Linked DNA regions of Homo sapiens. The protein of the gene in region 1 purifies or fractionates together with the protein of each later gene. This does not show direct contact. Each region holds a gene or a part of one and is shown on either strand. Other genes may lie near its edges. The genes, in order: ZFHX4 and GRHL1.

Evidence for each region.
Region 2: the proteins of ZFHX4 (region 1) and GRHL1 purify together in Homo sapiens (co-immunoprecipitation; one large-scale study listed by IntAct). This does not show direct contact.

Annotation. Positions count from the first base shown.
Region 1 is NC_000008.11:76,687,660-76,691,484, reverse strand, and holds part of ZFHX4 (zinc finger homeobox protein 4), read right to left. Parts: intron 1-3,825. UniProt on the Homo sapiens protein: May play a role in neural and muscle differentiation. May be involved in transcriptional regulation.
Region 2 is NC_000002.12:9,989,404-9,993,228, reverse strand, and holds part of GRHL1 (grainyhead-like protein 1 homolog), read right to left. Parts: intron 2,534-3,825; coding exon 2,482-2,533; coding exon of another isoform or gene 2,446-2,481; intron 1,223-2,445; coding exon 1,083-1,222; exon of another isoform or gene 913-1,082; intron 255-912; exon of another isoform or gene 23-254; coding exon 1-22. UniProt on the Homo sapiens protein: Transcription factor involved in epithelial development. Binds directly to the consensus DNA sequence 5'-AACCGGTT-3'.

The DNA.
Region 1 (3,825 bases):
TGTTATTCTTTCTGTACATTATGCTGCCTCCAAAACATCACAGCCTTGACTTCATATCCTTTCCTTACACGGAATTGAAGTGTTGTTCTTGTTCACACCATGTTTATGATTATGATAAATACACTTTAAGTCACTGAAATCATCAGTATTTTTATGAATCATAGGCTCTTCTTGTCCATTTGGAGCACCTAATCTACCTCCTACTTAACACAAAAATATGTTTAACAGTCACAATAACAAGAGGCCATCCAGATTCTACTTGTCTCCTGTCGATAACAGAGAGCTCACTCTCTCAGAGAAGACAGGTTATCATGCACATTTTTCCTTCCAACTCTTCACCATCTCCACAACCTTCATATTCATTCATTCAACAAGCCTTTTTCAAATAGCCAATACAGTTGAGTGACCACTGGTCCTAGAGTTAGAATATGTGAATTCTTGTCTCAACATTTTCCTGCCTTGCTGGGTAATCAAAGATAACTCTCTTTAATTCAATAGCCCATATTTTAAAATGAGTTAATTGAACTGAATGATCGTAAGGCCACTTCCCAGGCTCTGGCATTTTGGTAATTTCTAGTTGCCTTACCATCCTAGTTGCTCTTTTCTGTTGAGATTATATTGGCCAATTCTTAGAAGATGAAAGAAGTTTAGCCTATGAAGGGAAAACTTCACAAGCTACCACTAGGAATGCATCTAAAGAGGAAAGAGAGGCCTAACATGGAAAGAGGGTAGACGTGTGTGTATGTGTGTGTGTGTGTCTGTCTGTATATACTCTACTGAATAGGAATGTAGGAGTGTTAGGGATGATGAAACACAGTTGTATCCACTAAACCAAAAGAGATGATTAATTCTAATTTTCAATTAATGGGCTCAGGAAATCTTAAGTATTAATTGCATTATTCCAAAATTTATGGTATTTTAAAAACTACTAAGCACTATATTTTTGAAAATCCACATTAGCAAAGTATTTCAGGTTTAATGAAAATACCATGGGAAATGTAAAAATGATTGGTCTTTTTCAACCTATTCTTCCAAGCAGACAAACTTTAAGATTCCTCAAAAACTTCCCTCTTAAGAAGTTATGTTTCATTTTGTTTTTAACAATATAACCAGGTGGCATACACCAGCTCATATGTTTTTGTATTTTAACATTGTTAGAACTATGGATTTCCTTTCTTCTTTACAGTGAAGGAAAAGAATTTTATGGGCAGTTATAAAATGCATATTTTAACCTGAAAGTCAATTTTCCCTGGTTAAAATGATTTAGACCTGAGTAAATATTTGCAGAGTGATTTCTTTTTTATAGCTAGAACACAATGAAACCTATAAATGTTGTCTTTAGAGGTATGTCCTACAGTGCATACCATTCAGTAATTATCATCTGAGCACTGTTGTGTCCTCAAGTCAGACAAACATTAGAAATGATCTATTATCTGAATGATGATGCTGGTGTGTGAACCGCTAACCTGAGTGACCAAAACACGTCCTCACAACTTTTCTTGGACCATCAGGACATTATGATGTATTAACTAAGTCAGTCTGCCCAAATTCTTAAATCGTATTTGTTTATTTTATCCAGTCTCTAGAATGTTAAAGTGGTTAATTATATTAGAGATAAGCTGCTTACTAAATATGACTTTAGTGCCAAAGCCATTTTTAAGTCCAGTGCATAAACTCAAATATGCCTTAAAGTGGCAAATATTTGATTCTATTCACAAACCTTTAAAAGAAAGGGAGACTAGAGAGCAGCCATTCTTGGACTGAGGATTGTATGTCAAATATGAAACCATATCAAACTTTCAAGGCAACTTGTGAACCTCTGAAACTAGGGAATTAACAGAACATCAAGTCCAGCAAGATCACAAGGGGCACAATCCTTATGCAAGAATATAATGCCATCGAGCCCTCATTAAAAGCCCATTTCGTCTTTAGCCATCAAAGACTGTGAGTGCACTAAGATCTTGGTTATATCATCAGGGATAACTAAAACAAGTGCCAAGAGAAATTGTGCACTTTTAGTTCTCACATGTGTCCATCTGTTCACATATAAACACATATTCTGCTTTCTGTCTGATTTCTAAAATCTTGATATCAGAATACCCTGGGCTTTTGCCCATTTCCTAAGAATGCAGACATCACATAAGCTACTATTAACCCATGTGTGATCCACTTCCATGGTGGCTGGAAAACTGCCAGTTACAACACATGGTGCCTGGTTAACAATGTCTTAAAATATAAATGAATTTATTTTTTAAATTAACACATTTTCTTATGGAAATACCTTAATAAGCCCTTCTGCATGTAAAAGAATAGCCTCCATGTGGATTTTTTTGTTCTTTTAAGACTTTTTTCAAGCATATCATAAAGTTAACCATAAAAGTTTCTGAAACAATCCAGAATTTCTTGACAAATTTTAAAAAGGACTCCAGTAAAAAATTTGGGGGACTATATAACATAGATCAAACAGTTTTCCTTTACAATATGCTGTACTCAAGAGTCAACCCTTACACATTAATTTATGTAAAAATACTTGTGATTTCCCAAGTTTCCATCTAACCATCTTAATAGTACCTCAACAACAAAACTGCTAAAGTGATGAGGCAAATGGAAGTTCTAAAATCTAGCAACAAACAAGTTGGGTTAATATCTGATGAGATCTTCTAACCTTGTTCTGAGACAGCCATCGGTGGATCATTTGTGGTGACCTCAAACCAGAAAGAGCTTGTTTAAAATGTATACATATAAATAATTATCTGCACTGCATTTGATTTACATAGGTACAAAAGAACCAATTCCGATCTTTGAAAGAGTCTTCACACTTATGGTATTTTAACTGTCCTAATGCTGGCTGAAGAAACATCATTAAGAGTGTTGATCACATTGTCAACTGATAACCAGTTACATCCCTAACTAGTGACAGGGGACCCTACTACAAATGTCTCCAAGAGTGAACTTATAATACCTAGACACTTTTAAAAAGACTTATCTCTAAATAAAATACACAATACACCTACAAAGCAACATGAAGACTGCATTCAGAACTTTATGAATTAAATCTTAAGAAAATACATCAGTACCCTCTTCTCTCCCTTCCCAGCCACAAAAGCTGATAGACCACTTAAAACACTTAACATTGCCAAAAGTCAGATTACACAACTCTTTCCCAAGTGAAGTGTTTCACCAATCGAGATAGTTATTTATAGCCTATGGGGAAAAAAACAGGCACCTTATATTCCATCATTAACTGAATTAAATATCCACACCATACTATTGGCTCTTCTAAAATAATTGTTTTTGCCAGCAAAGTGCTGGGAATTCCTGATACCCAATAGTCAATATTTGGCTAGCCTGGCATGTTTCTGAAACTCTTCTATATACAAACCTCTGTTGATCATCTTCTAGCTGCACTATTGTCATACACATTACGTCCCAATGATGATGAAAACACAGCATCTTATAAAGTTGCTGAAATCTGAGCCCCTGCTTGTTTTCTCAAGTCTTGGACAAACATAACTTTAGAGAGAGCGGAGCATAGACATAAAGAAAGAGAAGCCTGCATTTTCATCTTCCTTTCATCTTAGTCATTCAGTCAGCCATTCAGGACCCTATTCAACAGAGCTTTTCATTATGCAAAAAAATGCTAATCCTTTTCCGATGCTTTCACACTTGTATAAACCCCCATTCCTTCAACTGAAAAGCAATTATATCAGTTTACCTTTCTGTCAAAAACAGGATTAATATTCCAATAACAGAATCTCTTTTCTTTTCCTATCTTTTTGCTTTAGGAAACCAGAGATTATTAGTAGAGGCATTCTTAGAACAAGA
Region 2 (3,825 bases), on another chromosome or scaffold:
CTTCAGAGGCAATGGGAAGGACCTAAGACCAAAGGAATAGATTGCTTTTCAAATGTATGCTCAAAATGTTTGGCCATAAATGAATTATTCCTAAAATGGAAATAATTTTGAATTTCACCAATCTAATATAAAATCCTTTAGCCTTAGTTTTCAATAACAGATTCTTACAGATGTCTTGAACTCCTTTAACTCAGTGGTTGGGCCAAATCTGGTCTAAAGCCAGTTCATGTAAATAAAGTCTTTACTGAAACAAAGCCACGCTCATTCATTCACATGCTGCTTATGGCCATGTGTGCACTAGTTCGGCAGCACTGAGCAGCACAGTGGAGACCACGGGGCCCCAAAAGCTGAAAACCTTTACGGCCCAGCCCTTCACAAAAACAGTGTGCTAACCCCTGCTCACCTCCAGCTTCCCATTAGAAACTAAATGTACTGGCCATGGCCCCAAGAACTCTGACGAATCTTTAGTCCTTATAAATCTGTCCACAAAGTGCATGAAAGACTGTCTTTTTGATATTTATTTGCACTCAGCATAAAACCATGCTTCATTCTACTGAAGTTTCTATCCCTTGTAAGCCTTTGCCACAAAACAGGGCGTGACCATTTTTTAAAATTTAGTTTTAGTTGCCAAGACATGGCCATTGGTAACTACACGTGGCAAGGACGGCTCAGTAACTGGAACTGTGAGAAAAGCCTTCGGATGTTCTTATGTTATAAGAGCTCCTTAACCTAGGTATTGCCCCAAGTTAAGTTTAAAAAGATGACAGGCTCAAACTCCAAATTATGCTACTATTCTAGAATCTTTTAAATGAGCTAGGATATGTAGGTATGAAGAACGAACGAATGAATGAATGAATACAAACAGAATAAAGCTGACAGGCTGCACTGCACCTTGAAATCAGCGATGCTTACCATTTTTATTGCACGGGCATCATGTCACCCCAGCAGAATATTCCAAAGAGCTGACTAACTGGTCAAACCTCACTCAATTTTGGCTTCTGTTTCCCATGAATAATGCCAAAGAATTTCCTTTTGCCATGCCTTCCTTCCTGGTAACCTCCCCTGGGATCCTGGTTACCTACATGAGTGCCCCGCTGCAAGTTGGCAAAGTGCACGTCAGGAATGAAGAGGACAGGCTGAGTATCGAGATCAATGAAGGGTTTGAAAACTGTGATATCCATTCGCTTGTGAGAGGGAAGCAGTGGCACTTTAACATCAGAAACTGAAAAAAAAAAAAATTAAAAAAGAGGAAGCCAAGGTCAAAGGATTACATACAGACTGGATGCAGGCCACAGAGTGCTCGCCTCTGAGTAAGATACTCCAAGTGTAGCACTCTGTAAGATACAACAGGGCACGCTGCCTGCCTAAGAATCCCAGTTTATGTAAAGGAATTTGTTGTGTGTATTTCCACTAAAATCAACTGAATGTCTTATCAAATCAAAAGGGAAAAGGTATCTTCAAACACACACAGACGCATATCCACAGAAGATTTGCGACAGAGGCAGAGCGTATTTAGTTTTCATTGGAAAGGCTAAAATGTATAATTGTGTAAACATAATTTGGAAGAAATTTCACCTCAGCTGTCCTCATTAAATAATTTACATTCCAACACTCATGGACCCATTGACTTCAGAACATATCAAGAAACTCGACAATGAGGTGAAGTGTAAGCATGCCCATCCAATTTTTAATTTAGTAAGTTAGAGACTCCATCTTCCCCAATGATCTGGCTGGCCCTGAAGTACTCAGTAATGAGGTCTCCTAGTTAGTCAGCTGCTCTCTGAAGTGTCACTGGGAGTTTGTACTTTGATACCAGTAGGAGAATCCTGACTAAGGTGTTGCAGGGCAAATGTCTGCTGAGCCAGACAGACCATTCAAAAGAGCTGCCAGAAGCCCATGTACTACAGATGGAACCCTACAGGCACAGAACAGCACTTTCTTCATTTTAGATACAAGATTTTGTGAATATGAATACTGGTCACAATTAAAAAAAAAAGAAAACAAAGCCTTCCTGGTGAAATGTCCAAACAGAAGCCCTATAGATTCTGCAAATATTAAAATACTATACTTTAGATACAAAATATGATCTTACTTGGAGTTAAGACATCTTGAATTCTCAAGACCATTATTATTACTTTAAAAAATCTAGATAAGTCCCAATTTTAACAGTGATTCATGCAGAACGTGTTGTCATTTTTCAAGACTGGAAACAGAAGTCTGAACTAGAACTGAGAGCCAAAAACGCTGAGGTCGGGAAAACCCAGGGATCTATCCTGTAGTCCCCAGGAAAACCCCTCCCGCTGAGCTGGCATCTGCTGCTGATCTGAGGAAGAGGCAGTGCCACACTGCAGAACAGGAAGAACACCCACTGTCTTCTGCGTGCAAACTCCAGCCACCATTCTCAATGGAAAAGGTCTGAAGCTTGCCGGGAACATTTCTACTTACAGGCATTCACCTGGGAGCTGGGGTCAGGACACTTGCCTTTTCTTTTGCTTTGCTTTCGTTCTTCATCCCTGATTTTCCGCTCAGCTCCCTGTAGGTTAAGAGAAGACAAGATATGATTCTGTTTTCCAATCTTCTTTAAAATATTTAACTCTTATCCTGACCAATGGAAGAAGAAGCCTTTCTCCCTTCTCTGGACAGGAACCCCATTACTTACTATATTCATGAGGCTTATCATAGTAGTTTCTTCTAAAAAGATTAGTCTTAAAATTATTTTTAATTCTATGAAATCACAGGGAACAACATTTATTTGAAAAACAAATAAAGCAAAATTCCGGCCGGAAGCGGTAGCTCATGCCTGTAATCCCAGCACTTTGGGAGGCCGAGGTGGGTGGATCATTTGAGGTCAGGAGTTCGAGACCAGCCTGGCCAACATGGTGAAACCCCACCTCTACTAAAAATACAAAAATTAGCCAGGCGTGGTAGCGGGCACCTGTAGTCCCAGCTACTTGGGAGGCTGAGGCAGGAGAACTGCTTGAACCCCTGAGAGGTGGAGGTTGCAGTGAGCTGAGATCACACCACTGCACTCCAGCCTGGGTGACAAAGCGAAACTCTGTCTCAAAAAAAAAAAGCAAAATTTCTCCTTATAATGGATGTGGTCGTGTTAAATGAAAGCTGAGAAAATCTGTGAGTATACCACATGCCTGCAAAGACACAAGGGTATTTTCCCTTTGTCCAGTAGGAAAAGGAAATGAAAGAAAAAACCCAAGTTGGCCCTACTCTTGAGTATACTCTCCTATATGGCCAAGGTTATCACTGAAGGCTGTGATTCAGTCCAAGGGCCTGGTATCAACCATGTGGCAGATCTAACCAAGCAGAATTCACAAAGTGAAGATGGAACTAGAAATATGCATCATCACTTAAAAGAGAACAAGTGGGCTGGGCGCGGTGGCTCACGCTTGTAATCCCAGCATTTTGGGAGGCCGAGGTGGGTGGATCCCTTGAGGCCAGGAGTTCACGACCAGCCTGGCCAACATGGGAAACCCTGTCTCCATTAAAAATACAAAAAATTTAGCCGGGCGTGGTGATGCATGCCTGTAATCCCAGCTACTCGGGAGGCTGAGGCAGGAGAATCAGTTGAACCTGGGAGGTAGAGATTGCGGTGAGCTGGGATCGCACCACTGTACTCCAGTCTGGGTGACAGAGTGAGACTCCCTCAAAGAAAAAAGAGAAAAAGTGTACTCAGAGTCCTAGAAAAAGACACTCGTGTACTCTGTATATCAACTGCTCAAAGACCGATAGTACCATGCAGCTGAACCCACAACAACAAAGTTCAAAAGAACCATATTAGTAACAAACACGGCCCAAAATCAGGCAATGAAG